Linked DNA regions of Homo sapiens: all the other regions are reported to be linked to region 1. Evidence: microRNA targets listed by miRTarBase, many of them from high-throughput screens and not tested one by one. Region 1 holds a microRNA gene; each other region holds the end of a gene's coding sequence.

The links. Region 1 holds the annotated microRNA hsa-miR-330-3p (GCAAAGCACACGGCCUGCAGAGA, at 4,946-4,968, opposite strand). A microRNA usually pairs through its seed, bases 2 to 8, with sites in the 3' UTR of a target mRNA and lowers its output. Matches are read on the target gene's strand: a 7mer-m8 pairs with bases 2 to 8, a 7mer-A1 pairs with bases 2 to 7 and ends in A, and an 8mer does both.
Region 2: the mRNA of NAA50 is a reported target of hsa-miR-330-3p. Seed matches in the 3' UTR shown: 7mer-A1 at 4,447-4,453.
Region 3: the mRNA of DHX35 is a reported target of hsa-miR-330-3p. Seed matches in the 3' UTR shown: 7mer-m8 at 5,223-5,229.
Region 4: the mRNA of BCAS1 is a reported target of hsa-miR-330-3p. The part of its 3' UTR that is shown has no 7-base or 8-base seed match.

The regions. Positions count from the first base shown.
Region 1 is chr19:45,634,064-45,641,184 of GRCh38, forward strand. MIR330 (microRNA 330) reads right to left here and starts at 5,024; the gene lies at 4,931-5,024. It overlaps EML2 (EMAP like 2), which reads right to left and starts at 5,334. Exons shown (of 19, transcript NM_012155.4): 1 at 5,294-5,334; 2 at 4,782-4,810; 3 at 4,442-4,571; 4 at 259-408. The coding sequence starts at 5,313. RefSeq lists enhancers at 4,160-5,011, 4,248-4,542, 5,012-5,863 and silencers at 4,248-4,542, 5,239-5,518, 5,539-5,628.
Region 2 is chr3:113,716,009-113,723,129 of GRCh38, forward strand. It overlaps NAA50 (N-alpha-acetyltransferase 50, NatE catalytic subunit), which reads right to left. Exons shown (of 5, transcript NM_025146.4): 4 at 6,898-6,964; 5 at 450-5,929. The coding sequence ends at 5,752. Among named protein-coding and RNA genes, the nearest start is that of USF3, 23 kb to the left of the region's middle.
Region 3 is chr20:39,037,575-39,044,695 of GRCh38, reverse strand. DHX35 (DEAH-box helicase 35) reads right to left here. Exons shown (of 22, transcript NM_021931.4): 22 at 4,975-6,197. The coding sequence ends at 6,153. Among named protein-coding and RNA genes, the nearest start is that of DHX35, 79 kb to the right of the region's middle. RefSeq lists a silencer at 1,884-2,084.
Region 4 is chr20:53,938,623-53,945,743 of GRCh38, forward strand. It overlaps BCAS1 (brain enriched myelin associated protein 1), which reads right to left. Exons shown (of 13, transcript NM_001366298.2): 13 at 4,919-6,374. The coding sequence ends at 6,300. It overlaps BCAS1-AS1 (BCAS1 antisense RNA 1), which reads left to right. Exons shown (of 5, transcript NR_199019.1): 3 at 1,810-1,976; 4 at 2,663-2,773; 5 at 3,553-4,959. Among named protein-coding and RNA genes, the nearest start is that of BCAS1-AS1, 27 kb to the left of the region's middle. RefSeq lists a silencer at 148-442.

The DNA.
Region 1 (7,121 bases):
CTCCTGAGTAGCTGGGACCATAAGGGCTTACCACCACACCCAACTAAAACACCTGAAATATTGAAATATTGATACTCAATCCACATTTTCCCACTAAATTCAGCCTGAGGGCAGCTGGTGGCTTTGGAGAGGGAGCAAAGGCTTAGCCTTGCCCCAAACCCCACAGGGTAGCAATGTGAAAAGAGGCATAGAGGGGCAGGGGCTGGAGCTCCATCTCCAGCCACAGCTCCCTCCCGTCCCCTCTGTCCCACATCTCACCATTTGATGTCATCGTTGTGTCCCAGGTAGTGTCGCTGCCTCTGCTCCTCCACGCTGTATAGCACGGCTACGGAGGCCACAAAGTACACTATCTCCCCGGTGGGCAGCAAATAAAGGTTGGCCCGGCAGTCTCGGCCACGGTAGCCATAGCTGGAGCCACCCAGGGGCTGGTTAAGGAATGTGTTTTGTTGTTGTTGTTTGTTTGTTTTGTTTTTATTTATTTATTTATTTTTAATTTTTTTATTTATTTATTTTTTTGAGATGGAGTCTCACTCTGTCGCCCAGGCTGGAGTGCAGTGGCGTGATCTCAGCTCACTGCAAGCTCCGCCTCCTGGGTTCATGCCATTCTCCTGCCTCAGCCTCCTGAGTAGCTGGGACTACAGGCGCCCGCCACCATGCCCGGCTTATTTTTTGTATTTTTAGTAGAGACGGGGTATCACCATGTTAGCCAGGATGGTCTCGATCTCCTGACCTTGTGATCCACCCGCCTCGCCCTCCCAAAGTGCTGGGAGCCACGGCACCCAGCCTATTTATTTTTTCTTTTTTTTGAGACGCAGTCTCGCTCTGTCTCCAGGCAGCAGTGCAGTGGTGCAATCTCAGCTCACTGCAACCTCCGACTCCCTGGTTCAAACGATTCCCCTGCCTCAGCCTCCTGAGTATCTGGGATTACAGACACACGCCACCACACCCAGCTAATTTTTGTATTTTTAATAGAGATGGGATTTCACCATGTTGGCCAGGATGGTCTCAATCTCCTGACCTCATGATCCGCCCGCCTCAGCCTCCCAAAGTGCTGGGATTACAGGCGTGAGCCACCACGCGCGGCCTGTTTTGTTTTTTTAAGACAGAGTCTGTCACCCAGGCTGGAGTGCAGTGGCATGATCCCAGCTCACTGCAACCTCCGCCTCCTGGGTTCAAGCCATTTTCCTGTCTCAGCCTCCCAAGTAGCTGGGACTACAGGCAGATGCCATCATGCCAGGCTAATTTTTGTATTTTTAGTAGAGATGGGGTTTCACCATATTGGTCAGGGTGGTCTCCAACTCCTGACCTCAGGTGATCCACCCACCTTGGTCTCCCAAAGTGCTGGGATTAGAGGTTTGAGCCGCTGGCGCCCAGCCGAGGAATGTATTTTGCATCACACACACTGGCTGAGGACCAGACTCAACAAGGTCATTGGAATGAGGTTTTTCTGTTTCCACTCTCACCCCTGTAGTGGGCTGATGGTCCCCTCCCACTCCAAAAAAAAATGAATGTCTGTTTCCTTTTTTTTTTTTTTTTTTTTTTTTTTGAGATGGAGTTTCGCTCTTGTTGCCCAGGCTGGAGTGCAATGGTGTGATCTCAGCTCACGGCAACCTCCACCTCCCGGGTTCAAGGGATTCTTCTGCCTCAGCCTCCTGAGTAGCTGGGATTATAGGCATGCGCCACCATGCCTGGCTAATTTTGTATTTTTAGTAGAGAAAGGGTTTCTCCATGTTGGTCACGCTGGTCTTGAACTCCCAACCTCAGGTGATCTGCCCACCTCGGCCTCCCAAAGTGCTGGGATTATAGGCATGAGCCACCGCGCCCGGGCTATGTCTGTTTCTTAATCCCCACAACTTGCAAATGTGACCTTACAAGGAAAATGGGTCTTTGCAGATATAATTATAGATCTCAAGATGAGATCATCCTGGATTATCAGAGTAGCCCCTAAATCCGATCACAAGTGTCCTTATAAATGACAGAAGAGGCAGCCTCAATCTCCTGGGCTTAAGTGATCCTCCTGCCTCCGCTTCCCAAATAGCTGAGACTACAGGCATGCACCACCATGCCCAGCAAATTTTTTGTATATTTTTGGTAAAGATGCAGTCTCGCCATGCTGCCCAGGCTGGTCTCAAATTCCTGGGCTAAAGCAGTCCACTTGTCTTGGCCTCCTAAAGTGCTGGGATTACAGGCATGAGCCAATGCACCCAGCCTGCCTGGCTAATTAAAAAGAAATTTTCTGTAGAGATGGGATCTCGCTTTGTTGCCCAAGCTGATAGTTATCTGGTTTATTTGTTAACTGCTCATATTCCCCAATAAGACTGTGAGTTCCATGGTGGCTGAGATTGGGCTGTTTTTTTTGTTTGTTTGTTTTGTTTTTTTCATTTCTGTATCTCCTCCTCCAGGAAGCCCTCCATGACTCCAGGCTGGGTCAGCCCTGTCCCTGTGGATTCCCCATCCCAGTCTTGCACACTCTGGGTTGTCACTCTCAATGAGTCTGTTCCCATGCTAGACTGTATGCCCCAGGAGGGCAGGCAGATGCTGTCATGGTCAGCACTGGGTCCCCAGCCCTATGTCTCAGATGTTCAGAAAATATCTTGAATGGGCCAAGCACGGTGGCTCACGCCTGTAATCTCAGCACTTTGGGAGGCCGAGGCAGGTGGATCACTTGAGGTCAGGAGTCCAAGACCAGCCTGGCCAACATGGCGAAACCCTGTCTCTACTAAAAAACACACAAAAAAATTAGCCAGGCATGGTGGCCCATGCCACCCAGCTACTGTAGTGGCCGAGGCAGAAGAATGGCTTGAACCCAGGAGGTGGAGGTTGCAGTGAGCCAAGATCGTGCCACTGCACTCTAGCCTGGGTGTCTCAAAAACAAGAAAATATCTGAATGATTGTCAATATACATATATCCTGACCCCATGAAACTGCTCTGACCTGCAGTCACTGCAAAGGGGAGCAATCTGAGGTCCTCACTTTTGCAGTCTCAGCCACCTCTCATCAGATGCTTATCAAGCCCTACTGGCAGGACATTTGGGACAGATTCCAGGGGATATTTCCAGCTGCCTCGAGAAGGCTCTGGGCACCCAGAAGGCCAGGCCATTTCACCAACCACCCTGGCTCCTCCAAAGAGGAAACCAAGGCCCAGAGAGAAGCAGACAAGGACCGGGTTCCTGGGGTGTGGACTCCAAGCTCAATAGGATTTTAGGAAAAAGTTTGGGTCCCAGAATCAGGATTGTTGTCTCCTACCTATAACCTCAGTTTCCTTATCTGGAAAGGAGGTATAATAATTTCCAAACTGTAGGCCTCAGAGCTCTTGGAGGCCACTAGTTGTAAAAAAATAAATTCATACCTGGAATAACTTACAACAGTGTCTGTCAGATAGTAAGTGCTTGAGTTATTATTTTGGATTTTTTTTTTTTTTTTTTTTTTTTTGAGAAAGGAGTCTCGCTCTGTCGCCCAGGCTGGAGTGCAATAGCACAATCATGGCTCACTGCAACCTCGACCTCCCAGGCTCAAGTGATGCTCCCACCTCAGCCTCCAGAGTAGCTGGGAACCACAGGAGCATGCCACCATGGCTGGCTATTTTTTTTTTCTTTTTCTTTTCTTTTTTTTTTTTTTTTTTTTTTTTTTGAGACGGAGTTTCACTCTTGTGGCCCAGGCCGGAAAGCAGTGGGGCAATCTCGGCTCACTGCAGCCTCTGCCTCCTGGGTTCAAGCGATTCTCCTGTCTCAGTCTCCCGAGTAGCTAGGTTTACAGGCACATGCCACCACACTCGGCTAATTTTTGTATTTTTAGTAGAGACAGGATTTCATCATATTGGTCAGGCTGGTCTCAAACTCCTGACCTCAGGTGATCTGCCCACCTCGGCCTCCCAAAGTGCTCAGATTACAGGCATGAGCCACCGCGCCCGGCCTGCTATTTTATTTCCTGTAAAGACGAGGTCTTGCTATGTTGCTCAGGCTGGTTTCAAACTCCTGGGTTCAAGTGATCCACCCACCTCGGCCTCCCAATGTGCTGAGTTAGTGTTTTATCAGTCCCTGTGCATGGGGCACATACTATGAGCTCAGTACCTTTACACATTATTTCACAGGTCTATGGACCTGAGATCATAAAATTCATTTTTCAGAGTCAAGACGACTTTTCCAGGGTCACACGGCCAGGTACGGGCTGGACTGGGGTTTGAACCCATCTCTGTCAGACTCCAGAGCCCGGGCTTCCAGCCATTCCCAACTCTTTTTGCTCAAATGCACCAATCCCACTCTGGCCACATAGCCCTTGAACGTGCTGTGCTTGTTTTGTGTGTTGCCCAGGCAGGTCTCAAACTCTTGGCCTCAAACGATCCTCCCAAAGTGCTGAGATTACAGGCCTGAGCTGCCTTGACCGCCTTTCTATTTCCTCCTGGGGGGATGGGAGCACCAAGGAGATTCCAGCAAAAGGATACACCCACTCCAGCTTGAGCCGGCAAGAAGGCAGCTCCGAGCGTGTGTCCAGGCTGTAGGTGGGTGCCAGCTCGTCTGGGATCATCATGGGCACAGGGCGGCCCCTCAGGAACATTTTCACGGAGCCATCCTCTGCCAGGACACCCCCAGAGGTCAGGCACTGACACCAGCCCCATCCCTATTCCCTCTCCTCTTCCAGCTTTATTTATTTATTTTTTTAAAGGCAGGGAAACTGAGGCCAGAGAGGCAAAGACCCAGTAGCCAAGACTCCTGACCTCTGGCTCCAGCCTGTCACCCCAACAAGCAAGCTTCCACCGAGCCCTTCCCCATCTCCCCACTCACCCACACTGAAGATAACTTCTTTGGTTTTGCTGTCAGGAAAGGACAAAGAAAAAAAAAGGGTCTTAGTATTCAGTTCAGAAAAGGGGAGAAACCATTCCTCCACCCCCACCGCTCCCCGGAGGTCTCCGATGAAAACGGGGCCGAGTAAGGGGCAGAGCGCTGCCTCTCTGCAGGCCGTGTGCTTTGCTCGGTTGATCTTGCAGAGCCTAAGACACAGGCCCAGAGAGGCAGTGATCGCCAAAGATCACACAGCACGAAGTGGCAGGGACGCGATCCTGGAAGAAGGGAGTCACCAAGGACCCTTCCCTCCTAATCAGCAAGGTGCTCCCCAGCGCCCCCCACCCGCAGTTCCCCCAGCACACCAAACGTCAAGCAGAGGGAGAAACGGGGAGAGTTTAAGGGAAGGGGCGTGTCCCCACGCCGGTCTGGGTCCCAGGGGTTGGGTGAAACCTGAGATCTAAGCCCCGGGAGCGCGGAGAGGAGATGGGGGGTGGTCTGCGAAAGGGTCTCACCCAGCTCCAAAGCTACTCATGGCGGCGGGTGGCGGAGCTTCGGGGCCGGGGGTGGAGCCGGGACCGGCTCTGCCGCTTCCGGCCCTGGGAGGCGCCCGGGCCGCCGCGCCCCTGCCCCGCCCTCCACAGCCACCCCTGGAGCCGGAGGGTCCCACCGGGTCACACATCCCGGGCTGTGGACTCCCGATCCCAGGTTCTTTCGGGGTGGGTGGGGGAGAGTGGTTGAGAACATGGACTCGGGAGCGCGCCTGCTTGAGTTAAAACCCCAGTTCTGCTAATTCCTAGCAGTGTACACAGGTCGTCCAACCTCTGCCTCGGTTTCCTCATTTAAAAAATGGGGATAATAAGAGTACCCGGCCGGGCGCGGTGGCTCATGCCTGTAATCCCAGCACTTTGGGAGGCCGAGGCGGGCAGATCACCTGAGGTCAGGAGTTCAAGACCAGCCTGGCCAACGTGGTGAAACCCCGTCTCTACTAAAAATACAAAACTTAGCCTGGCGTGGTGGCTGGCGCCTGTAATCCCAGCTACTTGGGAGGCTGAGGCAGGAAAATCATTCGAACTCGGGAGGCAGAGGTTACAGTGAGCTGAGATTGTGTCATTGCACTCCAGCCTGGGCAACGAGAACAAGACTCCGTCTCAAAATAAATAAATAAATAAGAGTACTCACACCTCCCGGGGGTAGTTGCGAGGGTGAAATTGGTTAATTATTGGGAAGTGCCTGGAGTATACACAACGCTGTATTTGTGTTTGCTATGTTTGAGCAGAGTTGAAATGTGCAGCTTTTGACCTTGGTCTTGCCCTTGCGTGGCCTCCTAGCGCTGACCACGCCCACTGCACCATAACTCCAGCCTTAGGGTGATTTTTGTTTTGTTTTGTTTTTGATACAGGGTGTGGCTCTGTCGACCAAACTGGAGTGCAATGGCGTGATCATGGCTCACTGAAACCTCGAATTTCCTAGGCTTAAGTGAGCCTCCTGCCGCAGCCTCCCAAGTAGCTGGGTCTACAAGCGAAGGCCAGCACGCCCGGCTATTTTCTTTCTCTCTCTTTTTTTTTTTGTTTTTTGTTTTTTGTTTTTTGTTTGTTTGTTTAACGGAGTCTTGCTCTGTCAGCAGGCTGGAGTGCAGTGGCGCGATCTCAGCTCACTGCAACCTCCGCCTCCCGGGTTGAAGTGATTCTCCTGCCTCAGCCTCCCGAGTAGCTGGGACTACAGGCACGCGCCACCACGCCCATTTTTGTATTATTAATAGACAGGGGGTTTCACCATGTTGGCCAGGATGGTCTCGATCTCTTGACCTTGTGATCCACCCGCCTAGGCCTCCCGAAGTGCTGGGATTACAGGCGTGAGCCACCGCGCCAGGCCTAATTTATTTTCATTTTTAGTAAAGACGAGGGCTCGCTATTTTGCCCAGCCTGGTCTCGAACTCCTGAGCTCAAGCGATGATTCCCGCCTCCGCCTCCCAAACTGCTAGAATTATATAGCCTTAGTTTTTGACTCTGTCCAGATCTTCAGTATGGCCCCGCCTCTGGAGTTGACCACGCCTGTCATTCTGAGCCTCCCTTCTAACCCTGTCCCTGAGTTGACTCAGTTGCTTGAGAATTGACTGCTACCTCCCGCCAACGCTCCTTCTCCGGCCCGCCAGGCATTCTGATTACGTCCATTTTCACGTATTCCTTATGTGAATACCTTCGAGGCCTCCAAGTTGGCTGCACCTCTTGGCATTTGACCACGCCCCTACGGCCCCGCCCAACCTTTAAGCCACGCCCTTTTCAACCTGGCAGTGCCCCCCGATTTTGATGTCAAAGCTTCTGGAATCTGGAATGCCTCCAC
Region 2 (7,121 bases), not on the chromosome of region 1:
AGTTCTCCTATGGGAATTAAGGCTTTTTGTTTGTACTGGAGCCAATGTTAGAGAAAACAAGTCAATGTAGGGAATTCAAAATTAAGGTAAAATCAAGATCCTTGAAGGAGCTGATTCATTTTAGTAAATAGGATGACCTGCACTTAGACATGAATTCTGCTTAAACTAGAATTTTACTTACCTTTATTTAAAGAAGTCACAGATATTTTTTGCCTTGCTCACTGCTGTATCCCTAGAGTTCAGAATAGTAGGCACCCAGTAAATCTGCAGAAACAATGTACAACTTTTATATCCACTAAAGGAAGATCGTTTCTTACTTAGGAAAGTGATAAGAATGAAGGATGTTATAAAATTGTTTTAAAGGTGCTATAACAAAGCCTTCATCTTACTAAGAGAACTGGGATTTACTGTTTGTGTATTCAAATTTCACCTGCATAAGCAATTACACATATAGTACCTGACAGTTTTATTATACTTTAGGGGAAGAGATGGCTAGTGACAAGGAGAATTCAAGATTGTTCAAATCTTTACAGAAGATTTTTGATACTAGCAAATGTTTCTCAAAGATAAACTAGACAAGTTCAGTATGGACAAAGAAACAAAGAAAAGCATTATAATCAGATGTCCTACGAAAGCTACAGTGATTCAACATGTGCTTTAATTTATACTGCTTAGATCCTTTGAGTTCAGATGTCTTGAGTTTTTGAGGACAGTAAAACAAGTAAAACTGGGATGAAATTAAAGCTATGTGGCAAATTAGTTTCAGTTAAATCAGGAATATCTAATACAAAGCTTACAAACTCCAAAATAGTTCAGCCAATAGAGTAACTTCCCAAATGCTGGATTTAAGCTTTCATCACAAATTTAAAAAGGTAATAATTCTTCTAGATCTCAACTCTAGGCTGTTAACAAGTAGCAACTCCTTCATATTAACTTTCTGCTCCCAACTATTTCTGAATCAGATCTTGCTGCTATTTTTTTCTTATTCTAGAAGCTACTGAGCAAGGAAAATACCTTGATTCATTCTAGATAGAAAACATTTTACTGGCCAGGCGCCATGGCTCGCCTGTAATCCTAGCACTTTGGGAGGCTGCCCCAGGAGGATTGCCTAAGCTCAGGAGTTTGAGACCAGCCTGGGCAACACGGTGAAACCCCCATCTCTACTAAAATACAAAAAATTAGCCAGGCGTGGTGGCATGCGCTTTCTAGTCGCAGCTACTTGGGAGGCTCAGGCAGAATTGCTTGAATCTGGGAGGCGGAGTTTGCAGTGAGCCAAGATCGCGCCACTGCACTCCAGCCTGGGCGACAGAGCGAGACTCTGTCTCCAAAACAAAAACAAAAACATTTTACCTAAGAAATCAAGTATCTTAAATTTTGGAGAACTGAAAAGGTTGAGAATTTCTGCCCCAGTAACAGATCGTTCTCTGACTTAAATAATTCTCAATGTTCTACCAAGTTAACAACACACATTAAGAAATCTGACTCAAGCTCTTTTTCCCATGTGACTATGTTACTTGGCTGTATCATAAACTAGGACTAAGTTCCTACAGTTCAGTCTTGCAAGGGAGAACCAATTCAGGACACTGCCATAGAAAATATTTACTCCCTGAAAAACTTCTATAGGCTTACTGTTCCTATTTGTGACTGTAGTATCCAATTTCCCAGAAATATTCAAATCAGTGAGAACAGCATCAGTCTGAGACAGACTAGTCTCCCCTCCCCACTGAAAACCCAACCACAAGAGCACAGCCTTTAGACCCACTATTTCTTTTATATCCCGAATAACTGTAAAGTGCAGTGCTTTATAACCCTCATTTAGAAAACTACTCCTTTTAGAGACTAATAAAACACAACCTAACCAAAACTACCCTGACCTTGGGAGTCAACGAAGCCCAGCATCTTCTCTGAGCAGTGATAGCCAGTCTCCTAGAGGGCCCAATGATATCCACCTCCCAGTATTCACATCCTTGTGCAGTCCCCTCCCACACTATACCAAGCTGATTCAATGGTTGGTCTGTGTGACTCATGGAATATGGCAGAAATAATGTCACCTGAGGCTACGTCATAAAAAAGTATGGTTTCTGCTCACTTTCTTATATCACCTGCTCTAGGGGAAGCCACATACCAGTTGTCCACCAGGCAACTGGTGCCCAAGGAACTGAAGCCCAAGAGCCACGTGAGCATCAGGCACTGTGTGTGATACCCACACAGTGAGGAACAGAAGCCCAAGAGCCACGTAAGCAAGACATCTTGGAAATGGCTCCTCTAGCCTTGTCAAGCTTCAAGATGGTACAGTCCTGGCTAACAGCTTGACTGCAACCTTCTGAGATCTCAAGACAGAACCACCCAGTTAAGCAGCTCCTAGATTCCTGATCCAGAACTGTGGAAGGTAATACTTGTTTGTTGTTTTAAACTACAGTAATAACTGAGACACACTAGACAAGGATCACTCATTGCTTCTTAAATGAAAAAAGCAAAAATCTAATTATAACAATTTTGACTAGAAATATTAAATACTGAATTCTGTTAAAGAAAAAATCTTAAATTCATGTTTGATAAAAAGCTTAAAAGCCAATTCCCAACTCATTGAACTACCGTACTCCTTCCTTACAAGGAAGAAAAACAAAACACCTGAATATGTTGTCTGTAGCCAATAAACATTACTAACTAGATTGCAGCCTAAAGTGTCAAGTATTTCTAATAATTACATTAAAAATACAGCAGCAAGACAGTTCCTTGGATCTTACTTTTTCCCTCTCATTGGAACTGAATTGTAGATATTGGGCACTGTACCTAGCAAGTCACAGAAGATCTGAATTAGGATGCCTTAATTACACTTGGCCTATTTTAATGATTTTAAAATTAGATCTTAAATGTGAAAGTAAATAAAAGCAGTAAGGGAAACACTACACAATGAGTATGTACGGTTGCTGGCTGCAGAATTCAACAATACAGTTTTGACATTTACAGATATCACAGATCACTACCAGAACATCACATAAGTTTATTTCAGATGTAACAGCAATGTTAAAATTGACAAGTTTAATTCTTAACTGCACCAAGTAAACTTAGCCATTTAAGTATTTTTTTAAGTTATTCCCTCCAAAAAACTGAGGGAGCTTTTCTTTTCCACCACCACACCATGGTTTCCCAATAGTTCTCTTTTTGGAGGACTTTTCAATTGATGAGTAAACTGCTTTAGATATTTCAGAACTTCATTCCCCAAATGAAAGCTAATCTGGACAAACTATATATTGCATAGATTTCTCTACAGATTCTTTGCTTTAAAACCTAAATGCAACTAACATAGTGTAATTTTAACCTATTTGCCCCACAGTAAAAACTATCTGTCCTGAAAAATATGATGGATATATCCTGTGATTTTCCAGTTAACAGAATTGTTCTACTTCAAAGATAATTATTATCATATATCAAAATAACCAGCTCAACATAGGACATTACTTCAGTCTTTACTGACTCATAGGCATATGAACTTGTGCCCAGCTTTTTACCTCTTCCACATTCTCCTCCTCCTCCATAAGTGGATGGAATTATTTAACTAAGTTTGATGTAGGACAATTAACCCTTTACAAACATTTACAATTCAGGTTAAGTCACTGACTACCGTGGAAAAAGAAACTCTATATATAATGATAGGGAGCCTACACACTCAATTCAAAATTTAATATTTTTTCCTCCTTAAATAACATGTACTTGTCATGAGGCAGCTATTAGGTTTTCAATAACCACATTTAGGGATACATTCATAGGACTGATTAGATAGTCCAGGTGAAATGGTTATAGAAATAGAGGCAGTGTCATCTCAGAAAACCATTTATATATCAAAGTCTATTTTGATATCTGGGAAGTTTACAAAAAGGCTGCTGCATTCTTCAAACTACTTATGCCTTCTGTAACTCAAGCACTCTTCTCTTGCCAAGAGCAAGCTGAAGCTTATTCATGAAGATAAAGGTGCTTAACGCTAAACTTTTCTTCTAAGCTTAGATTTGGATTGTTTAAGAAACGAATACCCCCAAAAAACCAGCAAGGTCTTTCTACATTTTTACCATCTTAAGATTAGAACCCTATAAACTCATTCATCAACTGTCTTCTTTTTCTGTATTATTCTTGGCACTCAAGATTGTTGAAGTCTACTGCACTTTGTACTTTCACATTCTCAAATAAAAACTTAAGGTTATAAAGTGTGCATAAACATTTTATAAAATAATTTTGTCATTTAACATATTTGGAAATGAGACTTTATACCGCAATTTTACATAAGAGGATAAATATGAATGAAACTTCCTTTTAAAGTCAAATGACAGAAAGCTCAAGCCCTGTGCATTATTTTAAAGTCTGAGAACATTTCTAAATAGTGGAGATGGGACTACAAAAGGAAAACATGAATATTTCAGATGTCTCCCATCTTACAAAGTTATCAATCTGTCAAAGCCACTCCGTGTGTGCCGGAAAATGATCTGGCATAAACCAGTCCTCTCAGTGGAGGAGGTCACAGTGACATTTGTATTATTAACATTTTACACTTCTATTTTTCCAAGAATAGAAGCAATATGTTTAATAATTACCCCTGCCTCAAATCCTTAAACTCAATATCACAGGCACTGAGTATAAGCAAATCTGGGATGTCCTCCAACAGATGTGCAATAGCACAGCTATGTTATTCTCAAAAATACTATTTTTTCCTATAAAATCAAATGCTCAGTGGCCACACTTTTAACAGCTGGCATTAGATGACAGTAATTGAATTTTTTGTGTCACAGCCCATCTAAGCTTCCTTTTAGGTATTTTTTAGTATGTCCAAGAGAAAACACCTGCTTCAGGTTTATTTAGGGGTAGTGACCTATAAGGACATCAACTCAATTTTTAAGGTTAGACTATTGTTGGGTTTACTGAAGAAAAAGGAACGGGAAAAAATTAAATCACAACACACCTCTTTAGGTCAGTTAAAGGCCATATCTCTAGCTGGGATATTAAAAAAAATTAATCTCACCAGCCCAAATTCTAAAAGTTAATGCCACTAGTAACAATCAACAGCAGGAAAAACAAACCTGCTAACAACCAGCCCACTCATTAGCAAAAAAGCAGTTTAACTCAAATACTTAGACCAAAGTATAACACTAAACCAAACTGCCCCACCCACCAGCAAGAAGAGAAGATATAATTACTTAAAAATCAACATAAGCTTAGTATTTCTTACAAGGATAACAATGTTCCAACTCCCGAGAGAGTGCTCAGAAGGACTAAAGGTGGAGTGAAGGCAATGTCTAGGGATTAGTATCCCAAAGTGTTTAAAAACCCAAAGTACCACAAACACACTCAACTTGTCTATGAATTAGAGAACAAGATACTGCTGCTGCTTCTTTTTGTCTTTTGAAATATACAATGTTTTGTAGGCTCTGCCCTTCAATGTGAAAGCAGGACATTAAATTTGAAATTATTTGACAATTAAATGTTTAGGACCATCTAACTTCAACTGCAAAACTAAACAGATCTACCTTGTCCTTCCTTCAAACCACCTCACAAAAATAAGAGAAAACAATTCAAACATGATTATTTTTTTAAAGTCCTTGAAAGTATTAAAACTCTCAGAGAAAAGGAAAGGAAGAAAGAAAAACAAGAACAAGGAGGGAGAAAAGCTTTAAAAGAAAAGTGTTGGGGTGGGGGAGGAATCAATGGGCCTCTCTTTTATTTGGCGACAAGCAAGTGCAAGAAAGTTCATTTGTAATTTGTTCAGTTGTCTGTCTTTTGCACATCTGCATTCTGACCAGAAGGAACTTTGAGGTTTTTCTGCAGCACATGAGCATCTGCGGGCTCTATCCTCTTATAGTAGTTCTTCTTTGTCTCAATAATCTCAAAGCCAAACTTCCTGTAGAAGTCAATTGCCGACTCATTGCTGATCTGGACATGCCTGAGATATAAGAGAGTATCAGAAAAAAAATTAAAATTAAGGTTTCATCAAGTTTTAAGCATTCTCCACAGATAGCTCCAAACATCTGTTACATTCTCTTTACAACTACCAGTAATCAACAAGGGTTAGGCATGCTTACCTAAAACCTTTTGATGACAATTTTACACTTTTAATCTAATTTTTACATTTGTAAGACAGCTGGCTGAGATTAGAAGGCTCAGTGTTTATTCTTGTAGTCAACAAAGGGAAAAGTACCACAGCTATCAAAATTTTTTCACTGTAAGAGGATAAATTATTAAAAGGCCCTATTAACACACAGAAAAAAAATGATGAAAAATAAAAAACTAGGGTCTCAAAGCTTGAAGATATATCTTCCTTCTGATTGATAAAATACATGGTATGTTTTAAAAATTAAAAACGCAAGCTTTCTCAATTACTCCCAAAATAACACTGTATAATTCAATCTCTCACATGGCCAAACTAAATTATGAACATCCATGACTGTGATCTTAGTCATAACTCTTTATCTACAGCCTCTTGAGATTCAAGTACAATCTCAGCTAGGTAATCTCTGATTTTGATTATTAAACTCTACTACAAATGATCTACTACAATGTTCAAAGCTATCAACATAGCCTTGAACAAAACACACAAGGTTTTGCATGAGAAAAGTAGTATTAATAGTCTTGAATTCTGAAGGCCTGAGTTTTAATCCTGATTTCATCCCTGTGACTTTGGTGCTCTCATCCTAATATAATAAAGCAATGTGTTCTATCTCAGGTTCCTAATCTACTATTATTAATAAAACAAAACTAAACAAAACTAACAACTACTCGAATACTTTGTAACAACTACTTCCACAGTGTTTCCAAAGGCACAATAAGTGACCAGATTTTAAAGTTTCTAGTAAAGATTTCTCCTGCCAATTAAACCCCTTTGATAAGAACATTAAATATTATTTTACTTACAGATAAATGTTGTCAAAAGTACCATCTTTTTCACAGATGTTTAAGACATGATTTAACATTTTAGTTCCTGTTAATAAAATAAATAACAAACACGTGACTTCATAAATCAACCTTTAAATTATGTATCTATCCACTTGCCATCTGAACTACTTATTGAGTCCTAAAAGAATTTATGAGGTATACACTAGATATCCTTATTTTCCAAAGTTGTGTTCTCTCTCTAC
Region 3 (7,121 bases), not on the chromosome of region 1:
CCAGCTGCGCACAGAGGCCGCCGCATCTCCATCCGCCACCTTTCCACTGTGTTGCTAATCTCATTGGTGCAGAGTGATGTCTAATTGTTGCTTTAGCTTGTGTTTTCCTGATGACTAACTTTGAATATCTCTTCAGTGGTTTGGTGGAGTGTTGGGTCTGCCCCTATACATTGCCTTCCATTCCCTGTGCCCATTTTTTTCTGCTGGAGTTGTCTTTTCACTGGTGATTTATAGGAGCTCCTTGTACATTCCTGACATTTAATCCTTTGTTTGGAATACCTTCCCCCAGCTCCCACACCTACAGGTAGGCCTTTTGCCAACCACTAAAGCAAATTAAGCATAATAAGAAATGAAGAGGCCGGGTGCGGTGGCTCACGCCTGTAATCCCAGCACTTTGGGAGGCCAAGGCGGGCGGATCACGAGGTCAGGAGATCAAGACCACGGTGAAACCCCATCTCTACTAAAAAATACAAAACATTAGGCAGGCACGGTGGCGGGTGCCTGTAGTCCCAGCTACTCAGGAGGCTGAGGCAGGAGAATGGCGTGAACCCGGGAGGCGGAGCTTGCAGTGAGCCCAGATCATGCCACTGCACTCCAGCCTGGGCAACAGAGCGAGACTCTGTCTCAAAAAAAAAAAAAAAAAAAGAAATGAAGAGAAGGGGGGCAAAGGAAGTAAAATAAAATGGGAAGTCAACTGTTGAGTTTTAAACTAATACACTAAAGTAGAAGATGAAAATCACAGAAAAGGCCAGACACAGTGGCTCACACCTGTAATCCCAGCACTTTGGGAGGCCGAGGTAGGTGGATCACTAGAGCTCAGGAGTTCGAGACCAGCCTGTGCAACATTAAGAAACCCCGTCTTTACTAGCTACCGGGGAGGCTGAGATGGGAGGATCACTTGAGCCCAGGAGGCCGAGGCAGCAGTGAGCCCATATTGCACCACTGCACTCCAGCCTGGGTGACAGAGCGAGACTCTGTATCAAAACAAAACAAAAAGAAACAAAAGAAGATCACAGAAGAAAATATTTATAGAACCACGACAACAAATGTCCAAAATAATAGTTAGACAAACAAGCAGAGTACAAAAAAGACCAAGACGTTAACATAAATGTCGAGGAAAAAATACTTTTGAAGAGCATTAAAAATAAACACGACTGCATTCTTTTTAAAACTTCGCAGTAAAAAGGAAAATAATGCAGAGGTCAGAGAGGTGGAGATTAAAGGGGTGAGGCATACCCATGAGGAAAAACAAAAAAACAACAGCAAAGGGAAAACACAGGGACAGCAGACACCAAGCAAACTGAAGACCGCACTTGAAAACAGAACAAGCCTAAAATGCGGGGAAGAAAAGCAACCAGAGAACGAGGCTAAAATAAACAGCCTGAGGGTGAGCTGGTAAGGCCTTATCAGCCAGCTCCTGCTCTCCTGGGGTCCAGGGCGATGTAGAGGCTGATGGCAGTGGTGGGGACGCAGAAAGGAACTCAGGCGACCTTTGGGTCCTATATGGGTCCGCCCATCAGGCTGAGGCCAGCAAAGAACCTGGCTAGGACGTTCATACTTGGAGCCACTGATGAGGCCATGGTCAAGAAGCCATGGGCAGTAGCCTGTGCTGGTCGTTCACCTGGCTATGGAGATCCTGGGGTATTAAATCCTGTGCCTGCACCACCCCTCCCTTGTGAACCTCCCAGCCTCCCTAGCCTGCTCATTGCCTTCAGGAGAACCCACAAGTGGGAGCGGTGGCCATGTGTGCCAGAGGGCCTGGGGGAACGCTGCGCTGGGAATCTCTTTGGCCGCACTTAAGCAGGCAAGGAGACGCCCTGTTCCAGCAAGTCCAATGCCACCCAAGAGTGCAAAAGGGAACACTGCCAGGATTCACCAGAGACGTCAACGTGTCATCCTTGCTTGCTGGAGGGAGCAATGACTGTGAGGACCCAGGGACAAGCCCTCTCCAGACCGTCTGCCACGCAAATTCCACCTGGTCATCCACAGTAGCCAGCTGTTTGTGCAATTATTTGATTGGCTATTTCCAGTTCCAATGACTCAGAAAAAAAGAAAAAAAAAAACAGATTAAACTGACAAGAAATCCAGAGTTCCATCATCCTGTTTCATCACAAATTAGAAGGCTGAGGAGAAAATTCAGATGAATCATTGGAGAGTGGAAAATACCTGATCTTATCTTGAGGTGAAAAAGGGATATGGGGCTGAGACTTGCCAACTCGAATTCTTCCAGGGGATAGAAATGTCCTCCAGCGGCGCCAAAGTTCACTTGAAACCCAGGTGGGTGCTTGGCAGTTCAGATCCACTTCCCAGAATGATGATCTTGGTGCTGATGCTGCCAGATGCCCTGCCCGGCCCACTCAGCCACAACCCAGTAGTTCCCAGACTTGAGGATTACATCAGTTTTTGTTTCATCATTTTGAATTGGTTTTTAATTGGGTGATAGATGAACGACTGTTGACATTTTATTTTTCCAAAGAAAACATTAAAAAATAAAACCACCATCTACTATCACCATTGTTTCCTAAAAGCATCTTAGCACCAAGAAAAGACTAAAGGATGGCCGGGCAAGGTGGCTCATGCCTGTAATCCCAGCACTTTGGGAGGCCAAAGCAGGCAGATCACTTGAGGTCAGGAGTTTGAGACCAGCCTGGCCAACACAATGAAACCCTGTCTCCACTGAAAATACAAAAATTAGCTGGGTGTGGTGGCAGGTGCCTGTAATCCCAGCTACTTGGGAGACTGAGGCAGGAGAATCGCTTGAACCCGGGAAGCGGAGGTTGCAGTGAGCCGAGATCATGCCACTGCACTCTAGCCTGGGTGACAGAGCAAGACTCTGACTCAAAAAATAAAAATAAAAAATAAAAAACACTAAAGGATGGTCTTTTATAGAGAATAAACTTAAGCTTTATAAAATGCTCATTACTACACATTCCTCATTTTTGCAAGACTCAGGAAAATTCATAGTGAGCTGACATTGATGCCTGCTGCCACAACCTGCCTGGGGAAGAATCCCAACCCCACAGATCTGTGTTCTGGGGAAACACGTAAGGGGAATTGGGCTGGGGTCTAAGCACACTTGTGAAGAAACAATTTATCAGCTTTCACTCAGACCTGACGCTCTGATCTCGAAGCTCTGATCTCCCCGCTGGGGGCTATCTGTCCATTGGGCTGCATGTCTTCACATCTTCAACTCCTGTCCCCAGGATTCCCAAGCCCACCACTTCATCAGAACCACCCGAGATGGGGCTTTTACAACTTACAGCTTCCCAGGCCTCACTGCCAGACATCCAGTCTTGTGGCTCCAGGACGGAGTCTTGCGGTTTTCCAGATTTAGGCCCCTTGGCCTGCGCCTCCCTCCCCCAGCCACCCAACCCTCTGTCTGGTCAGCGGCAGACATTCTTGCTCAGGCTAGGAGAAATGTCAGCCACACTGTCAGCGCCGGGCCCTGGAAAACAGAGCTGAGGGCAGGGCTGGGGTGCTGGGGACAACCCAGCACTGAATGGCAGGGCCCAGCCCATGAAGCTGGAGCAGCACTGGCAGTAGGCTGTGCTGACACCAGGACAAAACAGTGGAGATGGGAGCATGGAGCTGGGGCACTAGGCAGCTCTCCAAGTTCATGGCCCACATGAAATGCTCAGCAATGTGGGGATGGCCAGGGAAGAACATGAGAGCGGTCTGTCCTTTCACCAGGAAAGCATCTTGTCGTGGGGAAGTCTCTGTGGATACAGCCCTGGCCTTAACAACCCCTACTGGACCTCTGCCATCTCCTGCCACCCTGTCCTTCTCGTGCGCCCAGCTCCATCCTGGTCCACTCATCTGGTTACTTGTTGTCAAGTGTCTCCGCCTCATCCCTGTGCCATGCACATGGCCTGAGGGCTCAACATTTGCTGGCTGGACTGAGCAGCGCACTGGCTGAACCAGGGGCTCCCTGTGACGACAATGTCCAACCCCCGGGGAAGCCAGCTATGGCAGAAAACTGGCAGGGTCTCTGCAAGCCACCAACACAGAAAGCTGCCATCTCTGGGCCTACAGGGCACCACCGCCTCCATGCTTTCCAGCGCCAGCTTCTCTCTGCCCTCTCACTTGCTCCAAAGGGAAGACACAGCAATGCTGTGGGGAATTTTACTAGCAGTATCTGAAGACCTGTGTGGAGCCCGAGGGGACTAATTCTGTGGAAGTACTGGGGGACAGTCTGTGAGGTACTAGGCCCTGCTGTCACATCTGTGGGCTGACAATGGGAACAGGGACACAGACCTGCAACAGACAAAGTCAAAAGCTCTCATCTCTCTCGCCCAGGCCGGGCCCCACTCCCTGGTGAGTTGTGTGGTCCCAGCCTTAACCAACCCTACTGTAAAGGGGCCTCCCCATGGGCCCAGGATTTTGTAGTTGCTTCGGACAGCAAGGACCTGTCCCACCCATCACAGACTGTGACATAACACAGGACACAACACTGGGGGGTGTCGCCTGGGGAGGGCTGCCTTCTGAGAGGTGGAGGGACAGAGGGGAAGCATGTGCTCAGGATCAGGCGCCCAGGGGTAGAGGCAGCATGCAGGGACGGGCTTGCCTCTGGGTGCTCCCTCCAGATTGTCCGGGCTCCCAGTGGACTCTGGTCTCCAACCCGAGGGTGTGAAACCTGTACCTTTCCCCTTCCACCGCCATATAAGCTTTTTAGGATCAGCCCCAGTCCTAAAGCCAAACTTGAAAAATAATGTTTCTGACCTCTCTACAGGAAGATCCCAACTGGAAACTGGCAAGAATTAGCACCTCTTTGGGACTTCTTTTAAATGTCCCACAGTTTACTCTAATCAGGTCTTGAGGTCATTCAGTCACATCATCTTGCTTTAGGGGGCTTCCTGTGTCCCTGAGATCCCAAAGCTGCTGTATGCCACAGCATTAAGTTTCTTAGCTAATGTCAGGCCCTCACTTCGAACAATTCATTAGAACATCTTAACATACAGACACGAAAACCAGGTGTGGGAGGGAAGACATTTACTTTAGGTATAAAGGTTTACTATTATTAACAAGTTATCACTATTATTTACATGTTTATAAAATGGAAATAAAAATGACATACACGTTTGGTGCCAAAAGTGGCACATCCAAACTAATATCAGTATAAAAATAAATTTTCAAGCTATGTGTTTTTAAAATAAAGGTCATTGAAACAGTAAGGGGGAAAAAATCTGCATCTGGCATGTGTTGAAATGCAATCATCATCACAGCAAAGCAGCCCTGGGGCAACAAAACCAGTGCCTGCTGGAAGAACTGTCCCCACGCGCTCTTGCAAGAACCCAAGCAAACAAACAAAAAAACAAATACACCAGTGATGTTCCTGAGCTACAGAAGTTTAGGGCATCCAAACTGTTGTGAATTCCTGCTAAAGAGGAGGCCCTGTGGGATCTGAGCTGATGAACTCTCCTGAGTGCTCAGCTAGCGTGGCACCAGGACCTGGCACTACACTCTGAGAGGACGCTAAGCCTACCTGTGAAACACAAATCCTCTGCTAACACAAAACAGCGCACGAGTCCTCTCTGTCAATCACCAATCCCTTGCAAGTCTCCTGGCTGCAGATAAACAGGGACAAGGGCTGAGGACAGACAGAAGCCACTGGGTTTGGGAGACCCTGTGCCCATCAGACATGCCCTTTGGTGGTTTCGGCAGAGATCCCCAATGTTTCGTTCATTCGTAGAGACATGCTTGTTCACACCTGGCAGCAGACCTCATTGGTTAACACAGCTGTGGCCCCAGCAGGGAAAGCAAAGCCAGCCCAGCAAACCCTCTGTCCACCCCACATGGTGTTTTGGCCTTCAGTGGCTAACTTTCCTCCTTGTTTCCCATAGAGCTGGGCCAGGACTGCATGCCTGCTGGAAGTGGCATGCTGGGTTAGTGAGCGTGCTGAGTGAGCCAACTCCCACTCTGCCCGCTGCAGCACAGAAGGATGCCTGCCCATGCACAAAGTCCTCCAGGATCCCAGCAAGGATGCAAATGCTGTGGGCAGCGGGAAGAAAGGACTAATGAACAGGCCGCAGCCCACTTCAGAGCAACCAAACATTCCACAGGAGCTGGTGCCAGCTCACCCCACCTGGGACCAGGGGCAGCAGCATGGAGGAGAGGACGCCAGCAGTCCCTGCAGCTGTAGCTGTGGGCTCCTCTCACGGGTCCTGGACCTTGGCCCTTTTGGCTTTCAGAGACAGGTGCTGCAACAGAAGAGAAGACACTACAGTTGGGGTTGATTAGACAAAGAAACCAGACTGCAACATAATCCCCATATGAATGACCACATCAAATCTTCCATCTGGTCCACACCTTCCCAGTAAATGCTGAGCTGTTCATGAAACAGCCTGGAAGGAAAAAGCCCAAGTGGCCAATGAAGAAGCCGACCTGAATTCAGCCGCCAGCAACCCGAGGCCCAAGCCACAGCGGCTGAAGCTGGTTATACAGGGCTCTGCGGAAGCTGTCAAGGAAAGGTTTTCTTTTTGAGACACGACTCTCCCTCTGCCCCAGCCTAGAGGACAGCACCGCAGCCAGACAACTGTGCTCAGGAGACTGGGCTCAGTCTGGAAGTGATCTCAAATCTCCAAGAAGTTCCTGACAATAGTCAAGAAAAATTATCCTCTCTTTAGGACCAAGGAAGTCAATTTACCAAGCGTCTCAACACACCAGGTACCCATGCTCAAGGATGGAGATAAAGATATGGCCTCTGCCCACATGGAGGGTACAAGCTTGCTGGGAAAACAGAAAGGACACCTCCTAGTGACACTTTTTTTTTTCCCCAGAAATGTCACTTTCTACCATTATGAATAACACGAAGCACAATATTCTAATCATAGGCATCAGATAATAGGATTGGAAAATGAAGTATTTTTTACATTCTAAAGCAAAGCCAAAAGTGGCAGAAATCCTTAAATATGCCTTTGAGGCAGAGTGTGTAAATACAAGCTTTTAATGAAAGACCTCCCTCCACTCATCAACTGGGATATACCCGACAGCCCATTACTAATCATCAATAACCAAGAGATCCCTAAGCCGTGCCAACTAACACACAGTGGGAGCCTCACATGAGAATGCCCACCCTGACTGCTCCGGAGCTGGTGTGCCCACTACTTAGCACAGCCACATGG
Region 4 (7,121 bases), not on the chromosome of region 1:
TCTCCTTCATTGGAACCTCCTGAGAGGCTGCTAAAACACAGGTTACTGGGTCCCACCCCAAGAGTTTTTGATTCTGCGGGTATGGAGTGGGGCTTGAGAGTTTGCATTCCTAACATGTTCTCAGGTGGTGCTGAGGCTGCTGGTCCTGGGACTGTACTTTTAGAACCACTGGGCTGGTTACCTGGGAAGGGTAGATGTCTGGTTAGGGTGATCAGACATTCAGAGCTAAAACAAATTCACACTAGAGGATAAGGCAATCCACAATGGGTGTGGCCACAGGATATTTGTTTAGCAATTTATCCATTCAACCAATATTTGTTGAGTATCTACCATGTCCAGGCATTGTGCTAGACACTGACAATAGAACAATGAATGAGCAAGACAAGAAGGTTCAGATCTTGATAAGTTCACATTCTAGTGGCACTGCTTTGGAAGGTGGGGGCCGTCATTACACAAATCCCATGGGTGTGAATTGAAGGGACACAGTTAGTTTGGGGAATGGTTAGCCTTAAAGCCACTGATACCAATAATGGCTTTACTGTCTACTGTATCATTGTATTGCCTTCTCAACATGATTTCACCAAAATGATTCATTGAAACTGATTATGGTATTCCCATAATCCCCTTGCCTGGAACTGCATCCATCATTCAGCACAGTTTTAGGATGAAGTCAACCCATGGAACATGGCAGAATGGAGTGTCAGAGAACCAGAGCCAGGCTATGAGACTTAACACCAGTTATATGAAACGATACATTTCCTCATTATCGTTGTTAGCTGGAAGAGAGTCTCAGAGAATCAAAGCCAAAGATGTTATACAACACCTATTATATGAAATGATAAATACCCTTATTGTTACGATTATCTGCCAATTCAAGTAGGGGTTTTCTGTTACTTGGTGCTAAAAGTTCCCCATGATAGAATAGCTTGCCTTTCCTAAGTGCTTACAATGTGCCAGCCACTGCACTAAATGTTTGGTATGCACCATCTCACTGCATGCTGGCAGCAACTCCACGAGTAGGCTCTATTATTAGCCCATTGTTGAGGGAGGACACTCAGAGTTTAAATCACTTGCTCTTTAGTTGGGAGTGGAGAAGATGAGAGGTAAGGCTGCTTTGTGGAGCAGGATGGGCCAGTAAGGATTACTTAAATGCATTGCAATGACACCAACTGAAACGTTTTGCAATCACACAATCTTCCTTGAGCTTCTTCCAAGATAGAGCAGATAAGGATGGAAACACAAACCAACCAACCTTATCTTCATTTGGAGGACTGAGAATCATAGAAGGCAACTGACTTGCCCAGTTCAGCTTTCTCGTTCTAGTTCTCCTAATTAAACTTGACTGCTTTCTAGAAGTTAATCAACAAATACACTCTCAGGCTGCTTTGGCCCAGTTTCCCGGTTAGGCAATCAGGGAAAAAGGGCTAGGCATTGTAAAACCCCAGGTCCTGCAGCTCCCCCACGTGGCTGCATTTTGACAAAAGCAAGCTTCTGAGAGAGTAGATCACGTAAGGAACCAGCCCTTCCATGGCTGTCATTAGCAGAAGTGCAGCTGGGGGCCATTTTGTCAAGAAGTGCTTATTTGGAAAAACAAAACAAAACAAAAAATGAAAAAAAAAAAAAAAATCTATACAGGTGCATGCCAGTCCCCCGGTAATGAAATGTAACAAAGGAAGCACTTAAGTTCAGTGAGGGAAATACAGCTTTAAATTACAGATTGTACCCAGAGCACTTTATAAACGGTAATGTGTGATAATGTATTATCCTTACTTCTGTGAAATTGTGGACTGCAACTTCTGCCGGGGCCAGTTAAAGGGCCAGGAGATGGAGAGGGTTGCGTGAATGCCATTCAAGAAAAGGGCAACAGAGGCTAAGGGGTTAAACTCCCCAGAAAACCAATTTATGCAAAGGGCTGGATCCTGACCGGCATTCTGCACTAAAGATCTGAATTACAAATTTAGAGAATTTGCTGCTCGGTAAGTAATTTCTTTTCTTCCTAATGGAGACTATAATTTCCAGTGGGCCGGTGCCACTTAATTTGCACTGATAGAGTGAACAAAATCTTGACCACGGAGAAGCCTAATTCTACTCACCGTGCAAAATTGCCCTTTAAAAAGGCTTAAAGAGGGACATTCAAAGGATGGTTAAAACCAACCCCTATAATCTTACATTGCTGCAAAGCACATTCCCTAGTTTCCCCTGTGTTTGTATCTTGGGTTAGTTAATAATTGGAATTAGTTCTTTTTCCTTCCCTGTAAGGTAGGTAGTGTAGCTGATTTTATTTTTTTAAGGTATAAGATCTACTTGGGATTATCTGACATAAGAAATAACATTGTCAGATTCAGATTGGAGAAATCTGCACCCTTCCAGGCACTCTGAGAAGGGAAAGGACACAGATTCTTGGTTTCTTGAAATCTAATTCTTTAAGACACTTAGAATCTAATTTAATGAGACCCCAGTGCTTCTGGACTGTTTGCAAACAGACAAGAACAATCTAGTGTGTGTGAAGTGGGAGGAGGGAGGGGAGAGAGTGTGTGTTTAAACCCCTGATAATTTATCTAAAAAGCAAGGGGATACATACAACAAAGACCAGGAATTTCACTTTCTTTCTCTTTTCCTTCCCATTTTGGTTTCTATTTTGTTATGTGCCTCCTTCTCCAAGACAACGAATGCAGGAAGGACCTCACTGGCTGCTGGGAACAACTGCCCTTTTGAATGAATTCTTTTATGGTTACCAGTCAAAAAGTCACCGTCAGCTGGAACTGGAAGGGAGGTGTGTGTGTGTGTGTGTGTGTGCGCGTGTGTGTGTGTACGCGCAGTGGCAGCCATTTCAGCTCAATAGCTCCATTCCTGGAAAGGCCACTTCTTCTTGACATGGGAGAAGACACACTTCCCTGTGTACCTAAAAATAAATAATAAGTAAATAAATAATAATAATAAGAAAGTCATTTTTGCTCCCTCCCCCAGGTCTTAATTCTTCTTTCTCTTTTAATCATGTTTTTCTGTGTGCCACCTTTGCTTTGCTTATTTCCCCCACTGCTTGTTCTGTCTGATGGCATTTCTGGGAATCTGTGTCCTAAAGGCTTTCTTGGGTTTATTGGTGAGTTTCAGCTCTTTTTCACTCTAGTTCTGCATAAGGGGTGGGCATTAGTATTTATTGTAAATGCATTGGAAATGGGATCTCAACAACAATAACACACACACACACACACAAACACAAAAATGGAGTATTAACTTGTTTCTTAAGCCATAACTGAATTTAGAGTTCTCCCAGTAAGTCATGCGCTTTACTTCTCTCTGGCATTTCTTGCTTTTTTAAAAAAAAGCAATTTCATTAAAAGACTATTCTCTTTTTTGGCCCAGGAGCATAGGAAACCAGTTATAAAAACTGTTGGCATGCTTTGCAGAGAGATTCTCAGCAAAGAGGCTTTTTTTTTGTTTTATTTTGTTTTGTTTTGTTTGAGTGGGGGCTTGGGAGGGCTCCATCTGCCTTAGTAACTGGCTAAGTAACTGGCCTGGGCTACTCAGTCTGTTTCTCTTCCTCCTGCCTAGGGGCATTTCTTATCTGGGCAAAAAGCCCCTGTACCCAGCGAGGTGAAACTTGCAAATGATACTGTCACCTTCCTCAATGGACTGCAGCTCAGGAGCTCACCAAAGGTTGCAGCAGACAACCCCCACGGTGTTTGGAGACAAAGGAATAGCAGCTGCCTGGTTTCCTTGAATCACCCCGTGCTCTGACGATGGCAGTGATGGGCCTCCCACCAATGGCTTCCCCAAGTGCTGTTTTCCTGCTTCATGCCAAGTTAAGCATTCTGATACTAAGCGGCACGAGATAGTTCTCAACTGGGTGAGGCACAGGTGTGAGTAATCTCGAGGTATGGTCAGGAGGTTTGAAAAAACTAACCCAGCTGCAAGGAAAAGACCTCTGGTCTTTATTGGAAACACGAATTTGACCTGTCCAAGCTGGGAGCTAATAGGCCCCAGCAGCTCAGGATCCCCTCCTCACTTACGCTTGGGTTTTGAGTGATACCATATTTTTCTGAACACATTTTCCAAATGCCTATTTGCCAAAGCCGTGGTGTAATTTGCCTAAGCAGCAAACTTGTCCTTAGAGTCGAGGTCCATCCACATCAGGAGAGTATATTCAATGTTTATCTCCGATCAATGTGTGATGAATTGCATATGAGATAGATTTGTGTGAGCCAATGTGTGTGTGTGGATCTGTGTTAGTTACATGTGTTTATTTGCATGTATGTAAATATGACTGTGTGAGTGCATGGATCTATTCCTGCATGATATATATTTATATATATGAATATGTGCATATATATGCAAATATGGGTATAAATATGTATCTGAACATATAGGTGTGTATCTGTAGTGGACACTGTCAATGCACTCATCCTCCAGTTACTTAGGCATCCCAGCTTCTCAGCTCAATGGGGGCCGCTTGCCCATCCCCCCACCTCCCAGGGCAGCCCAGAATTCACCTACCAGGGTTCAAAGGCTGGCTCCCTTGACTCAAGGTCAAACTATCTGGGTGGTGCAATTCATGCTCCAGTTGAAACCAACCCTTGCCCAACTCTTTTCTTGCCCTCTTCTTTTTCTCTTACTCCCTTTCCCTCGGAGCCCACTCTCAGTATATCCTATGCGTCCAAATCCCCATCTCAGGCTCTGCTCCAAGCAACCTGGCCTAAGACAGCACTATTCTATACATGCATGTGTGTGTACATGCAAACATACAACTGCACACATTTGTGTGTGTGTGTGCCCATATACAAGGAAATCCGGGAAGATCTGGGAGAGAATGATCTTCCAAAGAAGATAATGGAGAAAGAGTATGGATTTTATAATGTAGAAGTTAGAGTCATCTCAGATATAGAGTGGGACTGCTTTGAAGTTGAAAATTAAAAGATACTTTAGAAGTAAATGTATTTTTTATTAAATCAGAAAAAGAAAGATACAGTTTACATGACTGTCAGTCAATCATATGCTACTTTGAATTACATTTTAATAGACTCAGGGTCCTATTTACTCCTTTGTACAGGTATTAAAAACAACTCAGGTATTTGAGAAGTCTTCTGTAAATTTTTATTAACTGAGGTTATGGGGAGGGTTTTATCAGAGCACATCCTGAGAACATTAGGAATGACAGACACACTTGAGATAAGTGTCAGACGGAACAGATGAAGCGAGCCCCTCAGCCATCTGAGAAACATTAATAATGTAAGATAGCAGAGACCAAATCTTTGTTAGGGATACAGTATTACAGGATAAAAATGGGGACCTTGCCGCCCCCTTGTGTTGCAAAATAACCGTGCAACTTCCTTTATTTTTTATTTATTTTTTTTTTTTAAGTTGTAATCTTTGCCGTTGTCACTGAGCCTCAAAAGCAATTGTTTTCCCAAATCATTTTAAGCCCTCCCCAGTCAATCTTTTCCCTCTCATCAATAACTTACAAGGACCCTATTTGAAAAACAACGCTTATTCATTCCTTTTTCTATACCCCACACATTCCGTTCTAGGAAATTGGCAACCACCCAACACAGCCCGGGTTCTCCCTCCTTGAGATGTGAATTTAAACAAATGGATTTTCGTCTCCCTTCTTCAAGCTTAGAGGATAAGCACGCATTTACTACAACGCTTAATTCCTTCTAGCAGCATTTCTCTTCTATAACTTACTTGCCACTGCCTTTTTTTTTTTTTGATAGAATCTTGCTCTGTCGCCCAGGGTGGAGTGCAATGGTGCAACTTCGGCTCACTGCAACCTCCACCTCCTGGGTACAAGCGGTTCTCGTGCGTTGGGCTCCCGAGTAGCTGGGACTACAGGTGTGTGCCACCATGCCTGGCTAATTTTTGTATTTTTAGTAGAGACGGGGTTTCATGATGTTGGCCAGGCTAGTCTTGAACTCCTGACCTCAGGTGATCCACCTGCCTCGGCCTCCCAAAGTGCTGAGATTACAGGCGAGAGCCACCACGCCCGGCCACCACTGCCATTTTCATCACTTAACCCGAACACATTCCTCTATTCCCTCCCTTTCCTGCTTGGTGATCATCGACTCTTCTGACCCAACTAGGTGACCTGCTAAACCATCTTTACTGTTATTTGCCAGAAAAGACTGGACCAGAGACGTAAATAATACACCTCAATATACAACAGCTCGGGCTTAATTTCTAGGCAGAATTTCATTTGCTGGCCATCAGAAGAATATATACATGGAGCGTGTTTGGGGAGGAGATGGAGTAAGGAGAACACATCTTGGTGGCAGGAGAACCTGGTGGGAACCGTGCTGATTTGTTTACTTGGATTTGCCAACTGGTCCGATGGATACTGGGTCTGTTTGCACTTGAGCATCCAACATCCGCTTTGGTCCCTGGAGAAAAACAGAAAGACGTGGCAGCCTATTGAAGCTCTGTAATGTCAACAGCAACAATGGCCATTTATGTAGCACTTACTCTGTGCTAGGTGTTGGGCTAAATTAATATATCTCATTCCTCAGTGCTGGGTAAGAGAATGGTCTCCAGTCAGATGCCCGGGTTCGATACCCAGTTACATGACTTTCTAGCTTTGTGAAATCTTGGACAAATTACTTATCATCTCTTTGCGCTTTGGTTTCTTTATCTTTAAAATGGAAATGACAAACTTATCTCAGAGGGTTGTTCCCAAGATAAAGTGAGTTCATGCTTATAATGTACTTAGTACCTAGGGGGTACTAATTCTACCTCACTTTAGCTCCCTCCCCAGTTACCATCTAGGTTCACCACCCTGTTTTATTTTCTTCTTTTTTTTTTATTATACTTTTAAGTTCTAGGGTACATGTGAGCAATGTGCAGGTTTGTTACATATGTATACATGTGCCATGTTGGTGTGCTGCACCCATTAACTCGTCATGTAACATTAGATATATCTCCTAATGCTATCCTTCCCCCAACCCCCCATCCCAAACCCTATTTTATTCTCTCTCAGAACATACCACTCTCTGAAATGATCTTATTATCTAATTTATTTGTCTAACATCTGTCTTCTACACCAGATTGGAAGCTGCAAGGATTCTGCGTGTCTCAGTGCCTTGCAGGTTCCTAGCACATGGTACCTAGCCTTAACATTGACTGAATGTGGG